Linked DNA regions of Homo sapiens: regions 1, 2, 3, 4, 6 and 7 are each reported to be linked to region 5. Evidence: microRNA targets listed by miRTarBase, many of them from high-throughput screens and not tested one by one. Region 5 holds a microRNA gene; each other region holds the end of a gene's coding sequence.
What was found. Region 5 holds the annotated microRNA hsa-miR-2467-3p (AGCAGAGGCAGAGAGGCUCAGG, at 2,212-2,233, opposite strand). A microRNA usually pairs through its seed, bases 2 to 8, with sites in the 3' UTR of a target mRNA and lowers its output. Matches are read on the target gene's strand: a 7mer-m8 pairs with bases 2 to 8, a 7mer-A1 pairs with bases 2 to 7 and ends in A, and an 8mer does both.

Region 1: miRTarBase lists ZNF527 as a target of hsa-miR-2467-3p. Seed matches in the 3' UTR shown: 7mer-m8 at 3,326-3,332.
Region 2: miRTarBase lists NLE1 as a target of hsa-miR-2467-3p. Seed matches in the 3' UTR shown: 7mer-m8 at 3,280-3,286, 7mer-m8 at 2,586-2,592 and 7mer-m8 at 2,329-2,335.
Region 3: miRTarBase lists HIC2 as a target of hsa-miR-2467-3p. Seed matches in the 3' UTR shown: 7mer-m8 at 3,376-3,382.
Region 4: the mRNA of EYA3 is a reported target of hsa-miR-2467-3p. Seed matches in the 3' UTR shown: 8mer at 2,488-2,495.
Region 6: the mRNA of APH1A is a reported target of hsa-miR-2467-3p. The part of its 3' UTR that is shown has no 7-base or 8-base seed match.
Region 7: miRTarBase lists PCDHB16 as a target of hsa-miR-2467-3p. Seed matches in the 3' UTR shown: 7mer-m8 at 1,105-1,111.

What each region holds. Positions count from the first base shown.
Region 1 is chr19:37,389,377-37,393,441 of GRCh38, reverse strand. ZNF527 (zinc finger protein 527) reads right to left here. Exons shown (of 5, transcript NM_032453.2): 5 at 376-4,065. The coding sequence ends at 3,563. Among named protein-coding and RNA genes, the nearest start is that of ZNF527, 20 kb to the right of the region's middle.
Region 2 is chr17:35,129,112-35,133,173 of GRCh38, forward strand. It overlaps NLE1 (notchless homolog 1), which reads right to left. Exons shown (of 13, transcript NM_018096.5): 12 at 4,060-4,062; 13 at 1-3,338. The coding sequence ends at 3,326. It overlaps FNDC8 (fibronectin type III domain containing 8), which reads left to right. Exons shown (of 4, transcript NM_017559.4): 3 at 311-547; 4 at 1,171-1,621. The coding sequence ends at 1,323. Among named protein-coding and RNA genes, the nearest start is that of FNDC8, 9.5 kb to the left of the region's middle.
Region 3 is chr22:21,446,095-21,450,146 of GRCh38, reverse strand. It overlaps HIC2 (HIC ZBTB transcriptional repressor 2), which reads right to left. Exons shown (of 3, transcript NM_015094.3): 3 at 1-4,052. The coding sequence ends at 3,404. Among named protein-coding and RNA genes, the nearest start is that of TMEM191C, 19 kb to the left of the region's middle. RefSeq lists an enhancer at 228-781.
Region 4 is chr1:27,970,857-27,974,921 of GRCh38, forward strand. EYA3 (EYA transcriptional coactivator and phosphatase 3) reads right to left here. Exons shown (of 18, transcript NM_001990.4): 18 at 1-3,690. The coding sequence ends at 3,610. Among named protein-coding and RNA genes, the nearest start is that of XKR8, 13 kb to the left of the region's middle.
Region 5 is chr2:239,349,521-239,353,585 of GRCh38, forward strand. MIR2467 (microRNA 2467) reads right to left here and starts at 2,284; the gene lies at 2,204-2,284. HDAC4 (histone deacetylase 4) reads right to left here. Exons shown (of 27, transcript NM_001378414.1): 2 at 3,158-3,398. The coding sequence starts at 3,179. RefSeq lists a silencer at 2,947-3,140.
Region 6 is chr1:150,262,808-150,266,860 of GRCh38, reverse strand. APH1A (aph-1A gamma-secretase subunit) reads left to right here. Exons shown (of 7, transcript NM_001077628.3): 6 at 205-328; 7 at 667-1,457. The coding sequence ends at 731. It overlaps CA14 (carbonic anhydrase 14), which reads right to left. Exons shown (of 11, transcript NM_012113.3): 6 at 3,991-4,053; 7 at 3,662-3,819; 8 at 3,442-3,562; 9 at 3,182-3,202; 10 at 2,983-3,067; 11 at 1,783-2,268. The coding sequence ends at 2,202. Among named protein-coding and RNA genes, the nearest start is that of SNORD13C, 3.1 kb to the right of the region's middle.
Region 7 is chr5:141,184,388-141,188,452 of GRCh38, forward strand. PCDHB16 (protocadherin beta 16) reads left to right here. Exons shown (of 1, transcript NM_020957.4): 1 at 1-1,839. The coding sequence ends at 503. It overlaps PCDHB9 (protocadherin beta 9), which reads left to right and starts at 2,774. Exons shown (of 1, transcript NM_019119.5): 1 at 2,774-4,065. The coding sequence starts at 2,932. It also overlaps PCDHB@.

The DNA of each region.
Region 1 (4,065 bases), not on the chromosome of region 5:
TAGGTGGGTATATATATGTAGTTTGGATAGATGGATGGATGAGTAGATAGATAGATAGATAGATAGATAGATAGATAGATAGATAGATAGATAGATAGATAGATAGAGATAGGTAGATAGACAGATAGATAGATATTTCTCTTTTAGGTCTTCACTCAAAAGTTAACTTCAGAAGGGCCTTCCCTGGCTCCCCATCCCTTTTTTCATCTTTTTCACCTTGGAATTTACTTTCTTACATATTATATATTTTACTTACATATCTTTTTCATTGTCTTCCTTATTAGAAATTAGCTCTCTGAAGGCAGGAATTCTTGTCTGTTTGGTTCACTGCTGTATCTCCATTGCTTAGATTAGAACAAAGCCTGGCACACAGTAGGCACTTAATACAAAAAATTTAAATAAAATACACATCTTCAGATGCACATACACACACATAAACAGAAATCTCTAGATGGTCCTAATAACAATCAAATATTAATAAAGCATAAATTTTCACTAATCCTAAGAGATCAGGTCAATATATCACAAGACAATGGGTTGTACAGTTGAAAAGAAACAAAATTTAGTACTTCATTGTGAGGAGAAACATCAGATTGTAAAATACACTGAAGCTAAACACATGGGTACAAAAGATTTTATCAACATTACAAGTGAAGTTTAACTATATAAACAGAGAATGAACCAGTAGCTTAGGTTTACGTCACTCTCGAGGATGAAATCAGGTGCCATACATAGATCAAAAATCAATTAGTAGCTGTGCACAGTGACTCATCCCTATAATCTCAGCACTTTGGGAAGCCGAGATGGGCAAATCACTTCAGGCCAAGAGTTGGAGACCAGCCTGGGCAACTCGCGAAACCCCATCTCTACAGAAAAACGCGAAACTTAGCCAGGTGTGGTAGAGCACACCTGTAGTCCCAGCTACTCAGGAGGCTGAGGTGGGAGGGTCGCTTGAGCCTGGGAAGTTGAGGCTGCAGTGAGCCATGATTGTGTCACCGCATTCCAGCCTGGATAACAGAGTGAGACCCTGTCTCAAAAAAAATAAATAAATAAAATAAAAATCAATTAGTGAGTAACTCAGACTCTTCTTACTGATCTGAGTCATTCTTCTTCAAGTTTGGTAAAGTTTACTGTAACCTTCTGAAACTTTCTGAAATAAATTATTACTCAGTGCTTGGAAATTATAAAAATAAATATCCTTATACCTCCAGGAAATATAATAAAAAATAAAGAAATGATGACATGAATTAAGCTTATAATATTAATATGTTTCAGATTAGATGTAACATAAGTTTGGAAATATTTTATAATCATATTTGTTTCTATTCAAGGTTTGAAGTACTGAGTCACTAAATCTGTATTTTAAGCTGTTTAAAGGGAATTTGAATATTTATGAAAAATAATTTTCAGATTTTATTAGAAATAAGTATAAGTTGAATATTTCACTCTATGCACACATATATTCACTCTATGCACACATATAAATCCTTCATTCTTTCCTCTTTCATTTGTTCTGATATGTTTTTACAGATGCTCTTCAGGCAATACCCAATATTCTTACTGGTTCTCACTATTCAAGATGGCCCAGCTGCCATATCACCAGTTTATTTCCCTATATCCACTCAGATAAAAAAGAAACGTATTGCCCTACACCTTCATCTTCCTCATTACTCCCAATAATGGAAATGATTTAGTCTCTAAAAATTTTAGGCATTAACTGCTTTACTTTTACCATTTGTTAAAAATGACTCATTCTTTCTGCCAGCAATATCTTTGTTTGATATCTCTAGCTGCAAAGAAGTTATCCATACACTTCTTAAACCAAATTTATTTATTTATTTATTTATTTATTTTTTTTTTTTTTTTTTTTTTGAGAAGGAGTTTCGCTCTTGTTGCCCAGGCTGGAGTACAATGGCGCGATCTTCGCTCACTGTAACCTCCACTTCCCAGGTTCAAGTGATTCTCCTGCCTCACCCTCCTGAGTAGCTGGGATTACAAGCACGCACCACCACACCCGGCTAATTTTGTATTTTTAGTAGAGACGGGGTTTCTCCATGTTGGTCAGGCTGGTCTCGAACTCCTGACCTCAGGTGATCTGCCCACCTCGGCCTCCCAAAGTGCTCGGATTACAGGCGTGAGCCACCGCACTGGGTCTTAAACCAAATTTAGAGCCCACCCACAAAAGACCTCATTTACAATTTAATTGTTATTATATTCTGCCACAGAATATGTTTAGACCCATACTGAAAGAAGAAAATCAAGTAATTCCTTGAAGATGAAGAGCCATTCATTAAACAAATGAAAGTATTATTCTCTTAGCTTTCCATTCTCTCTTTACAGGCAAATGGTGAGTCACTGTGACAAATGATTTTAACTCCTTAAGGGGAAGCCTGTTAAAGAATTTTACTTGGTGAATTTTAAAATATTCAGCCATAATGTGAAAAAAACTAAGAAACACTAAAATAGTTTTATCGACAAATAAAATGTAACAATTATCTCAGTTTTATGAAGGCTGTGTATTCAACTTTCATAAACTTGTTATATCAGAAGGTTGCTCCTCAGGATAAATAATTATGCCACGTAAAAAATTAAGGCTTTCTTTTATGTATAGCAAACATAGAATGTGTGAATCAGCACTCTAATTCCATGAGGCAAAAATATAATCCAAATTAAGCAAAAAAAGGAAATTTATTGGATCACAAAAAATGAAAAAGGATGGTGATGGTGTAGCTGTCAGGAATGACTGGATCCAGGAGATCAAGCTGTATCATCATATTTCTGTCTCTCATCTCCATTTTCCTCTGTTAGATTTCTCTTTGGGAAAGCTTTCCTCATGAGTGGCAAAAAGGCTACTGGTGAGTTTTTAATCTTATTAAATCCTTGAAACTTGCAGTTCCAGAATAAAACCTCTCTTACTGCCCATAGGAATACCCGCAAAGGACTTCATTGATCCAGACAGGGCCATTTGCCAATCCCTTATCACTAGGTTGGGGGAAATAATTGGCCAGCCTGTGACCAGTCCACTGCTGTCCCTGATTAACAGTTTCATCTGAATCATATGCATTGAGGGTGGGCTAAGCCAGGTATAGAACAGATCAAAAAGTAACAGATGTGGCCAGGCGCGGTGGCTCACGCCCATAATCCCAGCACTTTGGGAGTCTGAGGCGTGTGGATCACCTAAAGTCAGGAGTTCGAGATCAGCCTGACCAATGTGGTGAAACCCCGTCTCTACTAAAAATACAAAAATTAGCCAGGTATGGTGGCAGGCACCTGTAATCCCAGCTACTCAGGAGGCTGAGGCAGGAGGATTGCTTGAACCCAGGAGGCAGAGGCTGCAGTGAGCCAAGATTACACCACTGCACTCCAGCCTGGGCAACAGAGCGAGACTCTGTCTGAAAAAAAAAAAAGTAACAGATGTCTACTACTGAGCTACTTCAAATAACGGATACTCATGAACTGAAATATGAACTACATTCAAAGAATTACTAACCAAAAAGAACTCACTAATATTTAATAAGGATTGAGTGGTAACCACATGTTTTCTTTCCTATACTTGTTATAATCAGAGCGTTTCTCTATTATGAATTCTCTGATGTCGTCTAAGGGCTGAGACACAGCTAAAATTATTCCCACATTCGTTACATTTATAAGGTTTTTCTCCAGCGTGAATTCTCTGGTGTAGTCTTAGGGACAAGATCTGATGAAAAGCCTTCCCACATTCACTACATTCATAGGGTTTCTCTCCAGTATGAATTCTTTGATGTTGATTAAGATATGAGCCACAACTGAAGGCCTTTCCACATTTGTTACATTCATAGGGTTTCTCTCCTGCATGACTTCTCTTATGGTGAATTAGAACTAAAGCATCACTGAAGGCTTTCCCACATTTACTGCATTCAAATGGTCTCTCTCCAGTGTGAATTCTATGATGTCGATTAAGTTGTGAGTCAGTCCTAAAAAACTTCCCACATTTGATGCATTCATAGGGCTTTTCTCCGGTATGAATTCTCTGATGTTGATTCAGGTGTGAGCGATAGCCAAAGGTCTTCCCACATTCACTACATT
Region 2 (4,062 bases), not on the chromosome of region 5:
CTATCCAGTTCCTAACAGGCCATGGACTGCTATCAGTTGGTGGCCCAAGGGTTGAGGACCCCTGGCGTATAAGAAATATGGAATGAGGGTGTACCCTAAAGTGGGTGGGGCTGCCCAGGAGAGTAGTACATGCTTCGGGGCAGGGGTTCCACACTCAGTGCTGCAGTACCTTGCACCTTCCATCTGACCTGCCTGGGCCCCAGCAGGAGCAGGGGATGGGCATGGGACGTCCTGACCCCAGTTGGGAGGGTGAAGGGACAGGAAGGACAGGACATATCTGAGGAAGCCTCGGGGCTCTCTCTTCCCCTAGATTTCCTGGACCTACGCCTTGGGCAAGCAGCCGGTCAGTTTCTACCAGCTCCTGTTACAGGAGGTGGCCAAGACACAGGAGAATGAGTTGCCCGAGGCAAAGAATCGTCCATGGATCTTCAACAAGATTTTGGGCACTACTGTCAAGCTGATGGAGCTAAAGCCTAACACGTGTTACTGCCTCAGTGTCCGTGCAGCCAACACAGCTGGGGTGGGGAAGTGGTGCAAGCCCTACAAAGTGAGCCCTGGGAAAAGAGGGGCCTTGGGGGTGGAGAGAAGTCCAAAGCCAGGGAACCAGGGCTTTGGAGGTTGGGAACACCCCTATGCCCACATGACTCATCTGGCTAGCTTTCCTTCTGCCTGGGTCAAGAAGCATCAATTCCAGAATGCATGCTTCTGGGAGGTTTAAGGATTAAGCCACTCTGGGGCCCACTAGGAATGCAAACGAATGTATTTTTCAACATCACTATAATGTTCCCCTTCCAAAGCCATTGGTTTTTAGACTCTGCAATTCAGTGCCCATGATTGTGAGTAGGCTGGGAAGTCAAGGGCATTGAAAGAAATAGGGAAGACAAGAGGCTAAAGGGGGACGAAGAAGGGAACAGCCTGGGTATGGGGTAGGGGTATGGGGGTATAGAGGCCTGAGTACAGACAGCCCTTTGGTTGGAAATATCCCATAATGAGGAGGTACAGGCTTGAGTCATGCATCTTTGCACCTGTTTCCTGCGTCAATGGCTAGGTTGGATAAGGCTGTTTAAGGTCTGAGTCAGCAGACAGAAAAAAAAGGGGTGATAGAGACAGAGAGAGAGCCAGGTTCAGATCTGGGAAGGAACTCTGAAGGGTTTTCTTGTTTCACTTCAGTTTGCAACCCTGGCCACTGACTTCAGCAGCTTTCCTGAGAACTACCCCATCCAGATCACCGTGCGGCGCAAGGAACCCCGGCAAAAGATCGTGTCCATCGGGCCGGAGGAGATGCGGAGGCTGGAGGATCTGGAATACCTATTTCCCTGTTAAGGGGGAGGGCCCCAGGACACCCCTCACCTACTTTCAGCTTCAACCCCAGGCCCTCAGAAACCAGAGCCATGAGACCTACCATACCACCAGCACCCTGCGGGCCCGGGGTCTGGCAGAGTGGTATGGGCACCCCACCCCTGGGCTGGGGCCAAGGCTACATAGGGGCCCCATTCACCTGGAGGCATCTCAGGCCAGGCCATGCCAGGCTCAGCCACTGCCCACAGCTGCTAGACTCCCTCCTCCTCCAAATCTGGGCTGGGTCTAGGTCCCTCATTAAAGAACTGCAGGTCATCCAGCACCCTAAAGTCTGCTTTATGCTGCAGACAGCCTCAGATGGGCTGGCTGGCACCCACCTCCTAGCTTCCACCAGGACAGAGTCTACATGGGTGGGGAGATAGAAAACAGGCAGCTAGGCAATAGGATGCTGCCATCACCCCTTCCCCAGTGGGGCGGGGTAGGGGAACAGGGAGACTGGTGCTCTAAGACTAAAAGGCTCTTACACCAGAAAAATACAGAAATAGCTGTCATGGACAGACGTGGTGGCCCATGAACTGTCAAACTAGCTTGAGCTCTGGACGGAGGGATGTGGTACAAAGTGCACAATAAGCTTTGGGGCAGGGCCTGGTTTAATCCCAGCTTTCTCTTACTAGATGTGAGGGCATGGGCTAATCATTTCTTATGTTGTTTCCTCATCAAAAGTTTTGGAGCTTGAGAACCTTCCAGGCCTGGTGCAGTCTGAGAGCACAGCAGACAAACAGCTGGCACCAAGGAGCTCAGTGGCTGATAGTTTTGTTCGCTTCTTATGTAGCCTCACTGCAGATATGTGCAAGGTGGAGGCCAAGCACCACAGCTAGGTGACGCGCAAAACCCAAAAGCACAGACAAGGGTGGAGGAGGGTAAGAAGGAGCAAGATGCTAGTTCTGAGCAGTTTATACAAGGATGGTTTGGAAATCCAATCTGAGTAGTTCAGACCATGACCCTGCTTAGCATGGGATGCAGGAGAAAGCAGAGGCAGGGTACATTCAGGGCAAGATCTCGGCCTGGGGTCTGAGTCCTGATGGGAATTCCTTTCACTGCTTGAAAGTTCTCGTGGCAAAGAACTTCCTCTGTATCAACAATACCCACTTCTGCTCAGAGCTCATACTGCTGCCTCCCCATCTGAGGGAATCCTCTGGAAGAGCCATCACCTTCCCCGCTCTATCCCATGGGCCCAGGGCAGTGCTTGGTGCCTGGCAGGGCCTCAAGCAGTGTGCTATGCGAAGGCAGAGGCATCCCCTGGAGCAGGGCTGACCAGCAGAACTCTCTTGATGATGAAAACCTTTCTGTGTGCTGTCCAATACTGGAGGCCTTACCCAGTGCGATGGAGGAACTGCACTTCTATTTCATGCCAGCAGTCACATGTGGCCGGTGCCTACTGCAGTGGACAACAATACAGCCCTAGATTCTCCTTGGCCACTATCACAACTGGCCTCTCTCTTACCAACACGGGGGAAGAGAGGGAAGGCAAGTGCCTGGTCAGTGTGGTTTTGGCGTAGTCCAGTGCAAGGGCGGGGGCTGGACAATCTCATTTAGCACAGTCCTTGATTGAGTCATGGGGATTCTAGGACAAGGAATTAGAACCCAACACACAAAACTTAAGTTACTTATTTGGTCATAGAACCTGGGATCTGACCCTGTACAGAGCTGACACTAGGGGCCCACTCATAGAGCCTGGCTGCCCACCACCCCTGTCTGTACCAGCAAGGTACAGAGTAGCAGACACGGGCCAAGTTCAGTGACAACTTCCTGTGACCTTCGATTTCTGGCTCTGGGGTGTGCCACAGGCGGGGATCTGTGGGAAAACCCCATTCCGGTCTATCGAGGACAGCAGGCCACACGCATTCTCAGGTCCCCACTGGTGGGGAGGGTGTGTGCACTGCCATCTCAGCCTTTGTTCTCTGGCAGGGAAGGCAGCTGGCAGAGGCCGAGTCGAGGTGGGGGTCAGAGAGAACTTCGGGCCGTCTCATCTCCTCCATCTGTGGAGAAGGGAAGGGTGTCAGGATGGGGATTCCACCTTAGGAAAGGGAGGCCGTCATATAATCCCAGTGTCAACAGACGGACGGCCTGTGGTCCACCCTCAGAGTCACCAAGAGCCAGGTGACCGTCCCTGCTCTGCCCACCCAAACTCAGGCTGCCCACTCACTGCCTGCTGCCACCAGGACCTCCACCCAGGGCCTGGCCCTCGGGATGCCCACCAGCAAACAGTCACAATCCCTTATAAGCACACAACACTTTGTCTTCCAGAGTGTTGACCCTCCTATTTTTGATCCTGTCTGTGAAGGTTTGATAATTCCCAAGAGACTGATTAACCAAGTTCTCTGTGATTACTCCATGGCAGAACCAGGATTTGAACTCAGGTCTTGCGACTCTGAAGTCTAGTGACAGAAAGACCTGGATGCGCCCTCTACAAGGTGTCCTGTGGCCCCTGTTGTTCCGGTGGCCCTCCCACTTGCCCACTGACAGAAAGACCTGGACGCGCCCTCTACGAGGTGTCCTGTGGCCTCTGTTGTTCCGGTGGCCCTCCCACTTGTGGCCCTCCCACTTGCCCACTGAGAATCTGGCTCCACACGCCTCCTCAAGACAGTCTGAGCACCTGGACGGCCCTGCGGAATTCTATGCTGTAAGGGAAAGTGTGCACAGAAGGACCTTAGGGGTAGGAGGGCTGTGTATGCCAACCACCACTTCCCCCACACTCACATC
Region 3 (4,052 bases), not on the chromosome of region 5:
CCCCAAGTCTGAGAAATAAATACATTCATCACTGCACAAACATATTGATACAAAAACAACACTGTTAAGAGTGTTTGCACCGTCTATGTTGGTAAGGACCAGACCCAGTCAGCCCCTTCCGCTGCCTGGGGTGGGGTTAGGGGGCCCCAGGAGTGGGGACCCACCAGAGTCGACAGAGCTGCGCAAAGGTCCCGGCTTTTTGGCTTGAGTGGGACCCTCGCATCAACCCATCCCCAAGGGTCACGGGCAGAGCAGCAGGGGGACCCAAGCCCAGACTCGGGTCCTGTGGCCAGAACTGACGGCCATCCCCGCGTAGGCTAGCTGGTCAGGACCAGCATGGTCCGGCCAGAGGGCCTTGGGGGCTGGTCAGCACGGGCCCAAGCTCTTTGGTGCCAGCTGGGCTTGGAGGGGCCCTGGGAATGGGGACGAGGGCTCAGGTGACTCCAGGGAGGCTTCCAATCCCTCCCCCAGCCCCAGGGCTACCCTTCTCTGCCCGTGAGCCACTCCAGGGCCAACTCAGAAGGGTTTCCAGCAGCAGGGGAGGGTTCCCTGGACTGGCCTTACAGCTGCTGAGGTCTGAAACTGTAAAAGCTTATGTAAACAATGAGATAAATATATTAGCATCTTTTTTCTGAGCCCATGGAGGTTCCATACTCATTCAAAATGTGCTTTGGTTTAAAAAATAGGCTTTGTGAATTTGGGTATGAGCTTATTTTTTTTTCTTTTTTCTTTGTTTATCCTCTCTTTCCTACATGATATCTGCTATTTTCTGATTCCTGTTTCTCTGAAACATTCAGGAATTAAGTGACGAACGCAGAGAACTGTAAGCCGCCTTGGCCTCCAATAACCCAGTTTCCTTGTGAGGCTCTTAACATCTCCACACACACACACTCGCACACACCTGATGTGGAAATCAAAGGAAAAAGAAAACAAAGCCAAATGTTGTGTTAATCCCGCCCCGCCCCACAAACCCTTAAAGTCTTAAATAGGAAACTAGTGTTCTGCTTTCTCATTAAAACACAGAAAAGGCTCGATACAATACTAAGGTGGATACAATACTATGTCGCACAAACGTCGTTGAGTGAGGGGCCTCTGCTCCCAGTCCCTGAAGTTCTGCAAAGGAATCACCTACTTTCACGAGTCACCTCACAGATGCGGCTGCCCACAGCCCGGGAGGCCATGCACACGGCCAGGCGCGTGAACATTTCCCGTGCGGTACAGACTTTGTGTCATGTGGCTTAAGTGCTGATGGGGCGGGGTGGCGTCAGGACGGCAGGAGCCCCCTCACTGAGTATGGGTGAAGTCCATGGGTCTCCTCCCCCCAGGTCCCTAGCCTGACTTGCTGGAACCTGAGACCCAGGGTCCAGTCCTCTGTCTCCCACCAGGAGGGAAGAGGGGCCATCTTAGGCTGGGATCACCACAGGGAGGGCTCAGCCAGGAGCCTCATCTACCCAAGCTCCCTCACCCCCAAAAGACGCCGCTCACCACTTGGGTCCCTGAACTCAGGCTCTGTTTTTAGCTGGAGGGTCTCTAGAGGGGTGGGGGTAGGGGATGACTCTGTATTTTTTTGGTCTAAACTTAAAATAGAATGAAAAGAGAGAGAAAAAAAAATGGTGAAGCAAGATGACAATAAAGGCTGCCAGCCCAGCCCCACAGCTTCAGCTGGCTGAAGACAGTGGGACTGAGATCAGCAACCTTGGTCTGACCTTGAGAGCCCACTTCAGGGCCCACAGAAGTATCTGAGGCTGGCTAATTACCAAGATGAGGGGCGAGAGGTGGGCCCCGAGACAGTGGCCGGGGGCCAGGACTGCTCAGGGAAGTGCCATCCCTGTTCCCCGGGGGGCCCTGTGGTCAGCTCTCTCAAGCTTAAAACTCTTGCAGGAATGGAGGATAGGAGTGGCAGGATGAGGGCTCACTTCCGCCTCACCCTGGCCGGGAGCTGCAAAGACCTGCCACCCTCCTCATGGTTCCCCTGTCAGCACCCAGTGCCTGGCTCCAGGCTGGGGCCTCACACCCCTCACCTATACCACAGAGGTTTGTGTGCCCGGGGTGCCAGGGTCCCCTCGAGGTGGATGTGGCCAAAGGCTCAAAGGGAAAACCCACAGGTGAGCTGCAGGCACTGGGCCACTTGGCGCCCTGCTGGCTCCTGCACACGACTTCCTAGGTGCTAAGCGAAGGAAAACAAGAGTGTCAAGGGCTTCCACTGCCAGTCACCAACATATCGTTGTCATGAATTCAAGAGGTAGCAAAAGGTCAGAAGTCTCCACCTTGTTCAGCGAGGAAGGAGGGAAAGCGAAACATCTGCCCATGCATACGGCACACACCACACATAGACACACACATACGCACATACACACACACACACGCACGCACACACAAATGAAAACAAGAGTACCGACGGCCCCGGCATTGAGTCTAGCCTCCCCCCACCCCCCGGAACCCCAGACCTTCCAGTTCAAACAGTCACATAAACGTTACACTGGTTTTTCTCTTAATAAAAAACAAGTACCTCTAAACAAAGAATATTCCTTGGAAACTACAGGAAAAGCACTCTCCCCTGAGGCAGCCGAGGCAGGGCTCAGGGACCAGGGAAGCCTTTGGGCAAGAAGGGCTTCTGGGGCCTGGAGAGGTGGCGCGCCGACACCCCTGCAGCGCCAGAGCCGGGGGACGCGCAGGAGTGCCAGCGGCCCCTGTTACATTCAGTCTTCAGACCCAGGCTCAGCCCCGGAGGGGGCGGAAAGAAAATAAGCTATTGTCTGTTTTGGTTTAAAAAACAAAAATCAAAAAGAAAAACAGAGGAACAGATCAGTAGGAATAACAGCAACACAGGCCCAGAGGGCTCTTTAGATGTAGAGAGGTAGGCGGTGGGGTCACCCTGACTGTCCCAGCGCCAGTGAACAGTGCCACCCTGGCTCAAGGAGGGAGGGATCTGCACCCCCAGCACCTGTTCCCTGCAGAACCAGGGCTGCACGCGCCCGCACAGACACAAGCACACGTGCACACACACAGACACGGCCAGCGGGGTGAGGCCTGCTCCCGACACCACCCTGGCCGTGGCCAGCGTCCCACTGCCCTTTCTCCAAGCCGCCTGCAACAAAGGGACCAGGTCCCAGCGAGACCCACGTGACCCAGCCCACAGGCCCTGCGGTGGCCCCCGCGGGGAGCTGGGGGCCTGGGTGGGATGGGGAGGTAGACGGGCTGGGACCCCTGGCTTCCCTCCTCTCGGCTCTGCTTGGTACGGACTGTCCATTAAAGCTCTGGGTGTGGGCAGTGGGGGCCAGAGGGGCCACCCGGAGCCTCCACTGGACCCAGGGTCTTGCCCCTGCTGCTGCATCACCTCGCTTCTCCTTCCATGGGTTCCCGGGGAGCAAGGTGGCAGAGGGCGCCCGCGGGTCTTTGGCTTCTAGGAGGGGGAGGTGTGCATGCGCAGGTGGCTGATGAGGTTGCGCTGCTGGGTGAACTTGCCCCCGCACAGCTGGCACTCGTAAGGTTTCTCGCCCGAGTGCACACGCATGTGCTCCGTGAGGCGGTACTGACGGGTGAAGCGCATGCCACACTCATCGCAGGCGAAGGGCTTCAGGCCCAGGTGGCTCCGCATGTGACGCGTCATGGTGCCGCGCTGCGTGAACATTTTGCCACAGATGTTGCAGGGGAAGGGCCGTGTCAGCCAGTGCGTCTTCTCGTGCTGCCGCAGCGTGGCTGGGTCCTTGTAGGTCTTCTCGCAGACCGAACACTTGAAGGGCCGGGGCTCAGCCGTGTAGGCCGCACTGGGTGCTGACAGGTCCTCGGCCTCCTCCTCGGCACCCCCACTGCCTGTCTCGTAGGCCCCCTCTTCCTTGATGAACAGCTCTTCCTCCGTGTGAGTCTCCACGTGCGCATTGAGCTGCTCAGAGCTGGGGAAGCCCTTGGCGCAGGGAATGCACACATACAAGTTGTCCCCGTAGGACACCGTCTCGTAGCCCTCCTGCCGGTACATGTAGTGGGCGCTGGCATGGCCGCTGCCCCCCTCGCTCCCGCTCTGCGCACTGTCTTCACTTGCATCCTTGCCGTTC
Region 4 (4,065 bases), not on the chromosome of region 5:
TGGCCCAGACCATTGCTCTACCCCATACTCCTCTCCCCTGTGGTTCAGTGACACTGACAACCATTCAAGGTAGTAAACATCTAGAAGCTCCACATGCTGCAGCTAGAGTTTGCAAGTCAGATTCTATTTGGAATTTTAAAGCTGAGTTTGTGTAAACTGCGAACAAGCTGTGGCATCAGTCTCTTGGGACAACTCACTAGCTTTACAGAAGACAGGAACGCCGCAAATCAAACAAAAGCCCAGATGGGCATCTAAATCTGGAGCAGGTGTCCATTCTTCTGGACACTACCAGCTGCCCCAGGGGCACTGGACAGGGTGATGCTAAGGCACAGTCAGTTTTACATTCGAAAGTCAAGCCACCTCCTCAACCCAAGACACACCTCACTCCAGATCTACTACTAGAGAGAGCCCTCACCGTGACATTACAGACCCATCCTGTAGAACCCACAGTGCCTGGCCAGGCATGGTGGCTCATGCCTGTAATCCCAGCACTTTGGGAGGCCAAGGTGAGCAGATCACCTGAGGTCAGGAGTTTGAGAACAGCCTGGTCAACATGGTGAAACCCCATCTCTACTAAAAATACAAAAATTAGCCAGGCGTGGTGGTGGGCGCCTGTAATCTCAGCTAATCAGGAGGCTGAGGTAGGAGAATCGCTTGAACCTGGGAGGCGGAGGTTGCAGTGAGCCGAGATCATGCCACTGTACTCCAGCCTGGGTGACAGAGCGAGACTCCATCTCAACAACAACAACAAAAAAAAAAAAAAAAAAAAAAAGAGAACCCACCATGCCCAGCTAGGGAAGGACTCATCATTTGGCTAATTTCATGAGGACTCTAATGAAGAGGGTCTCCCCCTTGATGAATGGACCCACAGTGTCCTTTGGTCCTCAGCTTCTAACAGCTCTTAATCCTACCCACTTATTTTCCTTTCCAGATTTTTGTGTTGGGGTGGAGAAAAAGGCAGGGTAATTACAGAGAGCACTGTGTTCCCTGGACAATTCATTTTGGCAAACAGCCAAGAAGCTCCTGTTTTCTCTCTTCCATTTAAATGAGGGTGGCAACAACCAGGAATGAGCAAAGACTGCTCTGCTCAGCCTCCTTACCTCTCTTGGCCAAGTTCAAGTTCCTTTTGGAAAGAGCTAAGCTAGGAAGTCAGAGTAAGAGGAAAAAGGCCAATGATAAAAGTGAGTTCAAGTTACATTCTAAAATAAAGAGCTCCCAAAAGGGTGGAGAGGGAAGTATCTGTGTGTGTGTGCTTGCGTGCATGGTGGGGGTACCACTCCGCAGCCTCACAAACCTGAAGCGCAGCACAACAGCCGTGGCCTTTGTCCAGGACAAAAACCCAACAGCTATACTGCATAGGGGGAGGGTTTGAGGCCTCAGAGTAAAACCTAGAGCTTCCTAAGATCAACCATCAAACAAGGCAGAGCAGCATCTAGGCAACTATGCTGAATACAGACCAAGGGAAGGCCTACCTCACACTACATCTCCCTCCTCCCAACCCCACAGGAAACAAGGCCAAAGAGGCAGCTAAGTAAAGGAGCACTGACTTCAGCTACTCAGCAAAAACTTACTCCTTAAAATCACGAGTTATGAGCGCTTTTCAATGAGTTCTGAAGGAATGTGTATACCAGCCTCTCTCTCTTGCTATCTGGGTGGCCTGGCATTGGAAGGAGTCTTGCCTCTTTGTGCTGCAACATCTCTGGAAATGGGTATGCAGAATCTCTGGTGACAAGCAATTATAGCTGGGGTTGGTCAACAATGCCTCCTTCTGCGGACCAATCCTGCATCTCAATCTGAGGTGCTTGTATCATCTCTCTCTGTGTAGCCTGGGAGAGGCTGAACTTCCTCAGCTCTAGGGAATTTTATCCTGCCTGAGTAGATGCCCAAATTGCTCTTGGAGGGATGGGGCATCCAACAATCATGGCTGGGCTGGAAGGCTGTGACTAGTGCCTGGGCACCCACCAATCTGCCCAGAGGTCGAGAGATGCTCCTGCATTTGGCCCAGGATTAAGTTTTGGGCCATGAAGTAGGGAATGATGCAGTACTCTCATTTAAATCAGGAAAGTCTGGCTGGGTGCAGTGGCTCATGCCTACAATCCCAACACTTTGAGAGGCCGAGGTGGGAGGATCGCTTGAGGCCAGGTGTTCAAGACCAGCCTTGGCAACAATGTGAAAACCTGTCTGTTTCTCCCTTCCCCCCACAATCAGCAAAGTCTTTCTGGTTTCCTACTTTAGAATGGGATTTGAGAAGCAGGGTTTTCCATGGGAAAATTTAAATACAGCAATCTGCTCTTCAGTTTCAGGCAGAGATCTGGGTAAATACATACCTGGGACATCCTTCATATGGCTTAGGGCTTCCACAAAGGAAGTCAAATACATTGGCAGTTTTGGCCAAAATGTAGTTATAAGCATGTTTTTAGATTTGATTTGAATTCTTGGGTCTAATACCCGGGGACTGGCCAGAGCTGCCTGGAGGTGGACATGAGGTGCAGAGGGCAGGAAAGGGGTAAGAACCTAGCATTATGATGACCAAGAAGGAAGAAGCTGCAGGGACGAGCATCTGATGGGAAATGGGTGCTTCTCTGCAGGGGGAATAGGTAGAACCTTTCGGTCTCAAGAGCCAAGAAGCTGAAATTCATAAGACACTTTAGTTCCTTCTCTCCAGTTTGGAAGCTAAGCCTCCTGTGATACAGTCTGAATGACAGTCAAGCTGAAGGAGTTTTTAGGGTTGTGCCATTTGACTAAAGGGAAAAGGGACTGGAAAGAAGACTAAGGCTTCTAGATGGGAAATGCCAAAGTTTAAGTTACTCAGTGTCCAGTGCCCCACAGTTCACCAGCTAGGAGATAGAAGAACAGGAAAGGTATCATCCTAGAGAGCAGACCACTGGAGCAGCTATAGAGGTGCTACTGCCACAGGGAGGTATTTTAGATATTTCAATTACTATTTTCAAGACTTTAAACACCCCTTCTTGCTAGAAAAAGAAAGTGGGGGAAACCTGCGTCAAAGATCAGACCCTTACCTATAAAAATAACATACACATTCGCTGGAAATAAGTGAGATTCTAAGCTAAGGAGACTCTAAGACTGCAAGAGATGTTATCATAAAAGTCTGCTGCATTTATCTGATCACCACAAGTTATCAGTAATTCTCAATCTGGTCATGGACTAAGAGTGCAACTCTGCCCCAGGAATTTCCTTTTCTTTTTCATTTTTTGAAAACAAAAAAACAAAAACAAAACACAGAAAAATTAAAAGCACTGTAGCTGCAGTGAGTCCATTGTTCTCTCTATCCAACTGTCCCTGCTTCTGTATGGAGATGAACACGGGGCTGCAGCTCACTCTTAGCAAAAATTGCAGCTGTTGGTTCTGATTGTGTTCTCGCCAGCATTCCATGGATAAAGACAGAGAGAGAGAGAGAGAGAGAGGCAGAGAGGGAGGGAGAGAGGAAGGGAGGGAGGGAGAGAGGGAGAGAGAGAAAGAGAGAAAGAGAGAGAGATAGAGACAGAGACACAGAGAGAGACAGACAGAGAAAGTTCTCAGTTGGTTCCAGTCTCCAGCTCCCTTCAGGAGTGAAAAGGAGCTCAAGGGGAAGGCTCCTCATTCCAGTTCTTAGAGAAAATCAAGCTCTAAAGCCTGGTGAAGGGATACTAGGTCTCCATGGTTTGTGATCCTCCAGAAAGGCATGTTGTGCTGGAAGAGAGTGGGAATAGCTGGTTAATCCAACTTCTTCTGAGAGCTTATATAAATATTTGCCCATACTCTTTCCTCAACACACCTCTCCCCAAGGTACATGGTAACCCTATCTATCCCTGCCTCATAGGGCTGTTATAATGATCAAATAATCATATGCATAAGGACCTTGTACATTGCACACTTTAGAAATGTGAGAAATTTTAAATAGGTTTCAGTGGTACTTTGTGCTTTTGAGAGATTACCTGTTCTAGCTATTATTTTGAAGACAGGGTCTTGCTGTGTCACCCAGGCTGGAGTGCAGTGGTGTGATTATAGCTTACTGTGGCCTTGAACCCCTGGTCTCAGGTAATCCTCTTACTCCAGCATCCTGAG
Region 5 (4,065 bases):
CCGAAACTAGAGATCTCTGGGGATGGAGCTGCTTGGGAAGGCACACAAGCGAGTGGGCCTCGCCCAGGAGGGAGGGCACGGTTCTGGGCAAGCCCCATCCCCCGCCTGAGACGTGGGCAGAGGCCGCTGGGCCACCAGCCAGTGTGTGCAGGTGGTGGTATGCACGTGTTGGGCACAAGGGGTCCTGCCTCCCAAGGGACCTCCGGGCGGAAGGGCAGACACGGCAGGGAAAGATGACAGCGGACAGGGCAGAGGAGGCAGCCAGCAGACTTCAGGCCCCAGGCAAACCACCTCAGCTGTACCCCCTGCACAGATGGAGAGCAGAGAATGGGCTGGGCCAAGGGGCAGCCCTGCCCTCACCAGTGCGGCCTGTCTTCAGCCTCCAACCCACTGAGAGAGAGAATGGAGAGGTCGTGGGTGGCAATAAGGCGCACACAACCCAACTCACATGGGCAGGACAGGCCCGGGCAGGCCGGTGATCAAACTGAACCGCAGCGGCTGAAATTCCCACAGAAAAGGCCAAACAAACCCAGCACCCCGCGGTTTCCAGAGCTGAGCCTCAAAGAACCCGGCCTGAAAAGGTTAGAGACAAGCGGATGGAGAAATATTTGTTAGCCAAAAGAAACCAAGGGTAGAAATACCTCATGAAACACTATAAGCTCTCGGTCAAAGAAACATTAAACAAAGAGAAATATATTATATTTTGATAAGAGACCTGATCTACCAAAAGAACAGTCATTAATTTTTAAGCTTTAAAAAAAAACACTGAACTATATAAAGCAAAAAATGGTTATTAATGTAAAAAGAATATTATAAGACTATAATCACAGTAGAAAAATACACTTTTCCAAGAAATCGAGCAGACAGAAAAAAATAAGTAAAGCTATACTGATTTAAATAACTCAACTGAGTTAATATATAATTAAAACAACATATAAAGAAAGGATACATATCCTCCTATATATAAATAAAATATATATAAATGAGAGAACTTTTTTTTTTGAGACGGAGTCTTGCTCTGTCGCCAGGCTGAAGTACAGTGGCGCAATCTCAGCTCACTGCAACCTCTGCCTCCCAGGTTCAAGCGATTATCCTGCCTGAGCCTCCTGGGTAGCTGGGACTACAGGCACACGCCACCACGCCCAGCTAATTTTTGTATTTTTAGTAGAGATGGGGTTTCACTATGTTGGTCAGAATGGTCTCAATCTCTTGACCTTGTGATCTGCCCACCCTGACCTTCCGAAGTGCTGGGATTACAGCTGTGGGCCTCTGCGCCCGGCCGAGAACTTTAAATACAATATTGATACATACATACAGACGTCTTTAGACTGAAACAAAATCCTAAGAGCATACTTTCTCTTCAAATGCCTGCAGAGCATGTACAAATTATGATTATGTGTACACCAAGTCATACAAAAATATGCACCCCCATTAAAATAATCAAGTGTACTCAAACAATAATTTTCCCATAGCACACTGACAAAAATGAGAGAGACTGAACCTACCCAGTGCTGGTACAGCACAAATGAAAAATATGCATCCTCTTACACTGGAATTAGGAAGATCAGTTGGAACGAGGCTTCTGGAGCAATTTGACAGTCAACCTAATGATGTTTTAAGTGCACGGGCTCACTGACCCAGCTTCCACTTCCTGGAATTTGTCTAGTAGTGATACTTAGAAGTTTACAAAATATATGTATAATAATTGTTTGATGCCAATTTGGAATTGGTATAAACACTGCTACAACCACATAAATATCCATTCGCAAGGTATCAAAAGAGCAAGTTATATTTGCACACATACTGATACCAAAAGATGCTTATAACACATTAAAATGGACAGAATGTAAAACACAGGGCCCTGCCTATAGAATTATACTCTATGAAAATGCTCACACACATCACACTATGTTTAGACACAGAAAAAAGATACACTCTCACCCAACAGCAGCCCAGTGTAGGAGGGAGAGAGCCAGCTCCATTCAATGTCTATTTAGACACTTTGAGCCATAGCGCTTAATTTTGTCTTGGAATGATCATAAACCATTTCTTTACATCAGTCAATACATAAACAATTTAACTCAATAAAACTTTCATATCTAAAAAAACCTGGAATCTTGCCCTCTGGAATTTTCAGACAAAGACGATTCCACCCAGGGAAAGATGTGTGTAAGCGTTCCGGCAATCTCAAAGAGAGTGACCCAGACAGACCCTGAGCCTCTCTGCCTCTGCTCTAAGGAGCAGGACCCAGAGCCAAGGCTAACAGAGCCTCAGGTGCCTGTCCAAGCGTCTGTCCAGTGGCCACCGTCTTCTCTCTCATGTGGACGCAAGACAGAAGTCGATGGCTAAGTGCCCTTGAAGGCCACGGTGCGCTGGAAGTGGCAGGAAGCTGGGCAGCACAGGACTGGCTCTGCAGGAGCCCCACACTCAGGCAGGTCGGCGGCAGGCCTCGAGGTTTCATTATGGTGCACGCTCTCGGTGACTTTCCAAGGACAGAAAGTGTGAAGTCGTAAATGGATGGGCCCATGACATGCTTCTGAAGCTCAGAGCAGGACAAGCTTGCTTCCCAATCATGTGGGTCCCCCACCTACCAGCTCTGTGACCTCAGGCAAATTACTTCTTCCCTCCAGGCCTGAGATGATCTGGGGCTGTACTAAATGCTTGTAAAATGCTTAGTGCAGCCCCTCACAGAGGCCCTCAAACACCAGGAGCAACTGTGGCCACGACCTCAGTGGGAACATGAGCTTCTTCCCAGACAGCCCAGACGCCCAGTTGGAGGAGCACTCCCACCCCTCACACAACCCCTCATGAAACAACAAAGACACTGGGCAAGAAACCAGCTCTCCACATCACAACCTGACCTTTCAACATCACCCTTGTCAAAAAGCATCGAGGAAACCTGTGTGCCTCTCAAGTCAGCCTGCAAACCGGGGTCGCAGACTTGACTCCACATCCTCCCAGGTTTTATCATTCTTCTTTCACCAAGAGGAAGAATAAACCATCCATTTTGCACTTTGTGCTGTCAAAAACCAACAGTGACCACTATCAAGAAAAACAAAAGTCTCAAATCCAGAAAGCAAGCTGCAGTCACAAGAACTTCTACTTTGGGCAAAGAAAGCCCCGCTGTGTGCCCAGAGAAGAAATGACCCGGCCTTACCTGGATGGCTTTGGGAGCTCATTGCTAGCAATGTCCACTCCTTTAAGTGATTCGAAATGGCTCAAAATTTCCACGGAAACGATAGCTCCAACGAGCTCCAAACTCCCACCAACACATACAAGTACCGGGACGGTGAGGGCTGGGTCACAGACGTTCAAGCGCCGAGCCTCGCCGGCAAGGTCTCATGAGCCAGGTAACCCACAAGTTGAACAGAGGCGTCCGCTGGCTTCTGCAGATGAACCTGCAAGGTCAGAAGGAGAAAAGAGACTGGAGTTACAACATGGAAGTTCCGATCTGGAAAACAACATCCAACTAGGGAAATGATGACTTCCTCTTTTTTTTTGGAGACAGAATCTTGCTCTATCGCCCAGGCTGGAGTGTGGTGGCACGATCTGGGCTCACTGCAACCTCCACCACCCCTGCAACCCTGGGTTCGAGCAATTCTCCTGCCTCAGCCTCCCGAGTAGCTGGGAACACAGGTGCATGCCACCAGGCACAGCTAATTTTTGTATTTTTAGTAGAAACGGGGTTTTGCCATGTTGGCCCAGGCTGGTCTCAAACTCCTGACCTCAAGTGATCCACCCACCTCAGCCTCCCAAAGTGCTGGGATTACAGGCTTGAGCCACCACGCCCCACCAACTTCCTTCTTTATCCTTGTTCTGACCAAGGACTGATAGAACAGTTCGACGGAATCATTTCTACAAATACGAGCAGTGGGATTTTTGTTAGTAAATCACAGACATGTAAAAATGTCTCCAGAGAGCAGGGTTTCTCAGCCTCAGTACCACTGGGATTTTGGTTTGCGTATTTAGGTGTTGGGGTGTAGGGCTGCCATACACATTATAAGATATTTAGCAGGATCCTGGGCCTCCACACACCAGATGCCAGCAGCATCTTCCAGGTCATGA
Region 6 (4,053 bases), not on the chromosome of region 5:
GAGGTGAGCAGGAGCGGCAGAAACCTTTGAGTTTCTGAGGAGCTGAAAATCAAAAGTCCCCTTAACCACAAGATGTTGGTGCTCTGAAGGGAAAGACTGGAGAATTTGAGAGAGATATCTGGGAGTCAGAAAGGTACAGAGAGAATATGGGGATTAGGTCGAGGGAGAATCTAATCTCTTTCCTACTCTTACCCTCCTTCCTAGACATTCCTGAACCCCTGGTATGAGGCCAGCCTGCTGCCCATCTATGCAGTCACTGTTTCCATGGGGCTCTGGGCCTTCATCACAGCTGGAGGGTCCCTCCGAAGTATTCAGCGCAGCCTCTTGTGTAAGGACTGACTACCTGGACTGATCGCCTGACAGATCCCACCTGCCTGTCCACTGCCCATGACTGAGCCCAGCCCCAGCCCGGGTCCATTGCCCACATTCTCTGTCTCCTTCTCGTCGGTCTACCCCACTACCTCCAGGGTTTTGCTTTGTCCTTTTGTGACCGTTAGTCTCTAAGCTTTACCAGGAGCAGCCTGGGTTCAGCCAGTCAGTGACTGGTGGGTTTGAATCTGCACTTATCCCCACCACCTGGGGACCCCCTTGTTGTGTCCAGGACTCCCCCTGTGTCAGTGCTCTGCTCTCACCCTGCCCAAGACTCACCTCCCTTCCCCTCTGCAGGCCGACGGCAGGAGGACAGTCGGGTGATGGTGTATTCTGCCCTGCGCATCCCACCCGAGGACTGAGGGAACCTAGGGGGGACCCCTGGGCCTGGGGTGCCCTCCTGATGTCCTCGCCCTGTATTTCTCCATCTCCAGTTCTGGACAGTGCAGGTTGCCAAGAAAAGGGACCTAGTTTAGCCATTGCCCTGGAGATGAAATTAATGGAGGCTCAAGGATAGATGAGCTCTGAGTTTCTCAGTACTCCCTCAAGACTGGACATCTTGGTCTTTTTCTCAGGCCTGAGGGGGAACCATTTTTGGTGTGATAAATACCCTAAACTGCCTTTTTTTCTTTTTTGAGGTGGGGGGAGGGAGGAGGTATATTGGAACTCTTCTAACCTCCTTGGGCTATATTTTCTCTCCTCGAGTTGCTCCTCATGGCTGGGCTCATTTCGGTCCCTTTCTCCTTGGTCCCAGACCTTGGGGGAAAGGAAGGAAGTGCATGTTTGGGAACTGGCATTACTGGAACTAATGGTTTTAACCTCCTTAACCACCAGCATCCCTCCTCTCCCCAAGGTGAAGTGGAGGGTGCTGTGGTGAGCTGGCCACTCCAGAGCTGCAGTGCCACTGGAGGAGTCAGACTACCATGACATCGTAGGGAAGGAGGGGAGATTTTTTTGTAGTTTTTAATTGGGGTGTGGGAGGGGCGGGGAGGTTTTCTATAAACTGTATCATTTTCTGCTGAGGGTGGAGTGTCCCATCCTTTTAATCAAGGTGATTGTGATTTTGACTAATAAAAAAGAATTTGTAATTGTGGGGGAACTTGGCTTTTAAGGGAGGGGATAGCATGTTAATTGAGATTTCTGTCCTCAGATCTCTCATCCAGCCACTTTCCTAACCTGGCAACCACTGATTTCCAAGCATAGCCTTGGTGCAAGGGCAGAAATCTGGGCTAGTGGTTTAACATGTCTGAAACTTTGGGTTAAGTGTCTTCCCAGAAGCTTATCTTTCCTTCCAGGGGTGGGATAAAAGGAGTTAATCACCCATGCTTCTTTTCCCCATCCTTTGCCCATCTTTACCACCTGAGGGATTCAGGAACTTGCCCACCCTCAAGAGCCTCAAAGGATAGGCCAGAATTAAAGTCAGAAACTTTAATTTCCAAATATATTGATCAAAAATATACAACTTCAACAGCAACTCTTTATCCTAAGGAGAGATCCCGCAGTATATCTAGGGAAAGGGCCATAAAAGTGAGGGGGTAGAGGACTTTGGGGTATATCCCAAACTTCCCCTGCAACTAAACAGAGTTTGTTCTCTGCATTAACAACACAGCGATTTCCTCATTTCCTCCTACATGTTTGGAGAGGCTGAAGGCTCTGCAGTTCTTCCTGGAATGACAGCCTGGGTCCATTCCTCTCTAGGAGATGTCCAGGGGAAGGAGGACATCTGCTTACTACTCCTACAGTGTTTCTGGCCAGATCCTACACCCCATTTTAGAGGCTTCCTGATAGGCATGAAGGGAAGTCATCCACATCCATGGTATCTGAGAAGGAATTTATGCCTCAGTCGTGGCTTGTGCTGAGGTGAAGACCACACTCTTTCGGTTTTCCAGCCTCTTCTTCCTGGAAAGGGGAATGGCTCATGAGAATGACTGCTATCTAAGTGAAGCAGATTAGAGGTGAAATAGGAGAATGCTTTTTAACAGAAAAGAGGGCTGGGCAAGGTGTTTCACACCTATAATCCCAGCACTTTGGGAGGCTGAGGCGGGCGGATCACTTGAGGTCAGGAGTTGGAGACCAGCCTGGGCAATGTAGTGAAAACCCGTCTCTGCTAAAAATACAAAAATTATCTGGGCATGGTGGCACATGCCTGTAGTCCCACCTACTCAGGAGGCTGAGGTGGGAGGACCACTTGAGCCCGGGAGGTGGAGGTTGCAGTGAGCTGTGATAAAGCCATGCACTCCAGCCTCGACAACAGTGAGAACCTGTCTCAAAAAGCGGGTGGCTCATGCCTATAATCCCAGTACTTTGGGAGGCTGAGGCAGGCGAATTGCCTGAGGTCAGGAGTTTGAGACCAGCCTGGCCAATATGGTGAAACCTTGTCTCTACTAAAAGTACAAAAATTAGCTGGGTGTGATGGTGCGTGCCTGTAGTCCCAGCTACTCGGGAGGCTGAGGCAGGAGAATTGCTTGAACCCAGAAGGCAGAGGTTGCAGTGAGCTGAGATTGCACACCACTGCACTCCAGACTGAGTAACAGAGCAAGACTCCGTCTCCCACCTACCAAAAAAAAAAAAAAAAAGAAGAAGGGACTGGAGGAATGGAAAGTAGGGCCTCACCGAATCTTTCTAGCAATGAAATAAACAGCCAGGAGAAGGCAGAGACAGCCAACCAAGATTCCTACACCTAGACTCAGCATTTCACCTGGGGGAGATAAAGGTAAAAGGTGTCAGCCTAGGACTAACATAGATTTTGAGCCTTTCCCCCACTCGGTGAGGACACCTCCCCTCCCCGCATTATCTTATAAGGCTGGCTTACCTGTGGTATACGAGGATCCTGCTGTAAGAGAAGAAAATGGGTCAGTGGGACTTCAGATCCCCATCCCAGCTGGGAGCAGCACTCTCTGCTGCTGTGCCTGGGAGAATCCCCCGGGGGCACCCTGGGGTGGGGGTTGGTTCCCAGTCCAAGCAAGTCCCAGAAACCCCCTCCCCTTTTAGCCTTTTCTTCCCATTGGCTCCCTAGTTCCTGCCATTGTGTCCCCCTCAGTTTCCCATCTCTTCTGAGCCGTGCAGAATCACCTTGGATGAAAGAAGCAAAGACCATGCGCTGATTGAGAGGCTGAAGGGCTCGGTAGTTCTGTACCAGAAGCTTAGAGGGCTCCTCTTCTGTGGAGAACAATGTCCCCTGAAGCTTTTCCAGCTGAGGAGCAGAAGCGTGGGAGAGGTGTTACTTTGGGGAGTGGGAAGGGGTCTGAAGTTACAACTGTGTCTCACCTCACCTCGTTTCTCCACCACTTACCTGTTCCATTGAAATCTGGGACCTTCTATAAAAAACTGTCCAGAGCACACTCTGGTAGCAAGGGGGAGTTGTGAGCGAGCCATTGTAGCGGAAGTACTGCCCCAGCTGTTTGGGGAGCAGCTCTCTTAGGTTGAAGGGAGGCACTGAGGTCTTCTGATCTGGGGAGAACAGACTGGGACTCATCTTCCTTTCAGTGTGCCCTAGCTTACCTAGATAGGGCTCCCAGAAGCAAAATTCCTTGGCTCTATGTAATTGCTTCATCCCAAGGCTTTTAAGGATAGTTTTTGAAAGTCTAATCTTACTTCCTGCTATAGATTTTTAAGGCTCACCTTTATGCCTGACTTCATGCAAGTGACTCAGAATGTGTTCATAAGCTATATTCTTAGTCTCAC
Region 7 (4,065 bases), not on the chromosome of region 5:
CGGAGCCCGGGCTGTTCGGTGTGTGGGCGCACAATGGCGAGGTGCGCACCGCCAGGCTGCTGAGCGAGCGCGACGCAGCCAAGCAGAGGCTGGTGGTGCTGGTCAAGGACAATGGCGAGCCTCCGCGCTCGGCCACCGCCACGCTGCACGTGCTCCTGGTGGACGGCTTCTCCCAGCCCTTCCTGCCGCTCCCAGAGGCGGCCCCCGGCCAGACCCAGGCCAACTCGCTCACTGTCTACCTGGTGGTGGCGTTGGCCTCGGTGTCGTCGCTCTTCCTCTTTTCGGTGCTCCTGTTCGTGGCGGTGCGGCTGTGCAGGAGGAGCAGGGCGGCCTCGGTGGGCCGCTGCTCGATGCCTGAGGGCCCCTTTCCAGGGCGTCTGGTGGACGTAAGCGGCACCGGGACCCTGTCCCAGAGCTACCAATACGAGGTGTGTCTGACAGGAGGCTCAGAAACAAGTGAGTTCAAGTTCCTGAAGCCGATTATCCCCAACTTCTCTCCTTAGGGCACTAGGAAAGAAATAGATTAAAATTCCACCCTTCACAATAGCTTTGGATTTAATTATTGATAGGAACCCATTTGATAAATTCCTTAACTTCTTATGATTGTCTTGTTGATTAAATTGTTCATGCTCACCACCACCAATAAGGTATTTTTCTCTGATTGTTAGTTCAAATTATATTGTTAATTCCAGTTTCCCTTTTCCTCATATTTACCCCGAAGAGGTGTTGCATATAGAATCCCAATTAACAAAATATACTTTATCTTCAAAGTTGATGTCATTTAAAATTTTTCCGTCTTTATATTTTATTTACTTCCTATTCATTTTTTGCTCCATTTTTCATGTTACTTCTCAGTTTCCTAGAACTTCAAGTATTAAAATAACCTGTTGCATGTATTAGGCATATTTCCTATGTTACATTTCTTTTGTCTATTTTCCTTTCAAAATTGGTATTTTTGTTGGGCTCAATTTTCATTATAATACTTTTCTTAAAGTTTCTTTCTTTCTTTTCTTTTCTTTCTTTTTTTTTTTTTCCTTTTTGAGACAGGGTCTTACTCTTGTCACCCAGGCTGGAGTGCAGTGGTACAATCTTGGCTCACTGCAACCTCTGCCTCCTGGGCCCAACGGATCCTTCCACCTCAGCCTCCCAAGTAGCTTGGACTATAGGTGCATGCCACCATGCCTGGCTAATCTTTTGCAGCGATGGGATTTTGCCAAGTTGCCCAGGCTGATCTTGAACTCCTGGGCTCAAGCCATCCTCCCTCCTCAGCCTCCCAAAATTCTGGGATTACAGGCATAAGCCAATGTGCCCATCCAAAGTTTTATTTATTTATTTTTTTGAGATGGAGTCTCGTAAAGTTACCTTTAAAAAAAAAGTTCTATTTTCCCTGTATTGGTATCTCCTTAAATAAAATAAAATATTCCTATTGTAAGTGATATGAGAAATCTTTAACCAGCCTTATCTAAAAATAAAAAGAGAAGCCATTGTAAGACATTCAGTATGTGTAAATGTGTTTGTGTTTGTAGACAAAAGGCAAAGGTATTATGTAAAAATATTTAATAATTTATTCTTTCTATTACTGAATTAAAAAATCAGAGGTCCCTGTTATATTTTTAATGGCTAACAACTCAATCTCATTAAGTTGGAAAAAAAACTTATCAAAGAGACATTTACATGGTTTGGCTTTTATATTCATCATAGTATACATTGGCGGTATCTAGCCCTTTCTCTGTAAAATATCCCTATGTTTAATCTGTATTTCTTGCTTATTATATGTAAAGTTGAGCTTCTTTCTAGATATTAGGCCTTTGAATAAAATTCTATGTGAGTCAGATTTAATAATTTGTTTTCACTTTCAATAGTGTTAGGATAGGTGTTAGTTTGATCTGTTCTTTACCTCCGCTTATTTGGTTCAGAGAAATTAGGGCCTACTAGATTTCCACTAAAAGGGACTTGAAAATAAAGGTCAGTCCCTTCTTTAATTCTGCAAGTTACTTTAAAGCTAATCTAAGAAAAAAAAAAAACAAATTGCAAAGTATGAGTAAATTAAAGAAAACAATTTTCAAATGGCAGAGATCGAAAGGCACTGAATTTTGTTTCATGTCCTACTCACTAGTTTATTTATGCATGCCTTAATATAGCCAGCATTTAGTGAGTGGCTAATTTGCCAACCAAAGATGACTAAGACATAGTTGTTCTCAAGTAGTTCACACATTGATGAAGGGGCAAACTGGCCTGAAACAAGAAGCAATAATATTTATAGAGTAAACATAGTTGTATGCGTAAGTTTTAGAGAAGCACAATGGAAAGACAGCCTAATGCTTGGTTCTGGACTACAGAGCGGTGATTCTAGTTAGGCAATCTGAGATCTTGAAGACATTTGTTGAAGAAGATGTGAAACAAGTTTTTTTTATTGTTGTTAATTTTTGGTGTTCCTATGCCCAAAGCTTTTGAGACAGTGAAATTGATTATTTTGGTGGTTCCAGAAGGCACCCACAATTTTCCCTTTGTTTGCGTAAGAGTTGTGTCAGAGGCGAAAGGCCTAACACAGCTAAATCTAACACAGAGTTGAACAGGGTTACTGCTAGAAACATTTTTTCAACTGTTCAATTTTTATCTTTTCTCATGAAGCAATGAAGAATTTTTAAATAAACACAAAAATTGGGCACAGCCATTTGACTGTGTTGGAAGCCACAAGGTGGCGCTGCAGACTGAAGAGACGGAGGAACAAAATTGACCAGAATGCTACGGAAGTCCTTGACAAAAAGGAAACACTGAGACAGATGGGCTGAGAAGAAGAGCTGTCGAGTCCCTGATTGGGAAAGGAAAAATTAAAAACCCTAGATCTCTGGTACACATAAGTCTGGGTTTGCGATTGCTATTTGTGCTGGGGCAGTGTGATTGAGACTGACATTGAGGAAAGAAGCAGCTATGAAGACCAGGGGGTTCAGCTTTCCAAGACAAAGGCAAGTCCTGTTTCTTTTTCTTTTCTGGGGAGTGTCCTTGGCAGGTTCTGGGTTTGGACGTTATTCGGTGACTGAGGAAACAGAGAAAGGATCCTTTGTGGTCAATCTGGCAAAGGATCTGGGACTAGCAGAGGGGGAGCTGGCTGCAAGGGGAACCAGGGTGGTTTCCGATGATAACAAACAATACCTGCTCCTGGATTCACATACCGGGAATTTGCTCACAAATGAGAAACTGGACCGAGAGAAGCTGTGTGGCCCTAAAGAGCCCTGTATGCTGTATTTCCAAATTTTAATGGATGATCCCTTTCAGATTTACCGGGCTGAGCTGAGAGTCAGGGATATAAATGATCACTCGCCAGTGTTTCGGCACAAAGAGATGGTCTTAAAAATATCAGAAAATACAGCTGAAGGGACAGCATTTAGACTAGAAAGAGCACAGGATCCAGATGAAGGTCATAACAGTATCCAAAACTACACGATCAGCTCCAACTCTTTTTTCCATATTAAAATTAGTGGCAGTGATGAAGGCATGATATATCCAGAGCTAGTGTTGGACAAAGCACTGGATCGGGAGGAGCAGGAAGAGCTCAGCTTAACCCTCACAGCGCTGGATGGTGGGTCTCCATCCAGGTCTGGGACCTCCACTATACGCATTGTGGTCTTGGATGTCAATGACAATGTCCCACAGTTTGCCCAGGCTCTGTATGAGACCCAGGCTCCAGAAAACAGTCCAGTAGGGTCCCTTATTGTTAAAGTGTCTGCAGGAGATGCAGACTCAGGAGTCAATGCAGAAGTATCCTATTCATTTTTTGATGCTTCTGAAGATATTTTAACAACGTTTCAAATCAATCCTTTTTCTGGGGAAATCTTTCTCAGAGAATTGCTTGATTATGAGTTAGTAAATTCTTACAAAATAAATATACAGGCAATGGACGGCGGAGGCCTTTCTGCAAGATGTACAGTTTTGATAAAAGTATTAGATTCCAATGACAATCCTCCTGAACTGATCATATCATCACTTTCCAACTCTGTTGCTGAAAACTCTCCTGGGATAGTATTGGCTGTTTTTAAGATTAAAGACAGAGACTCCGGAGAAAAT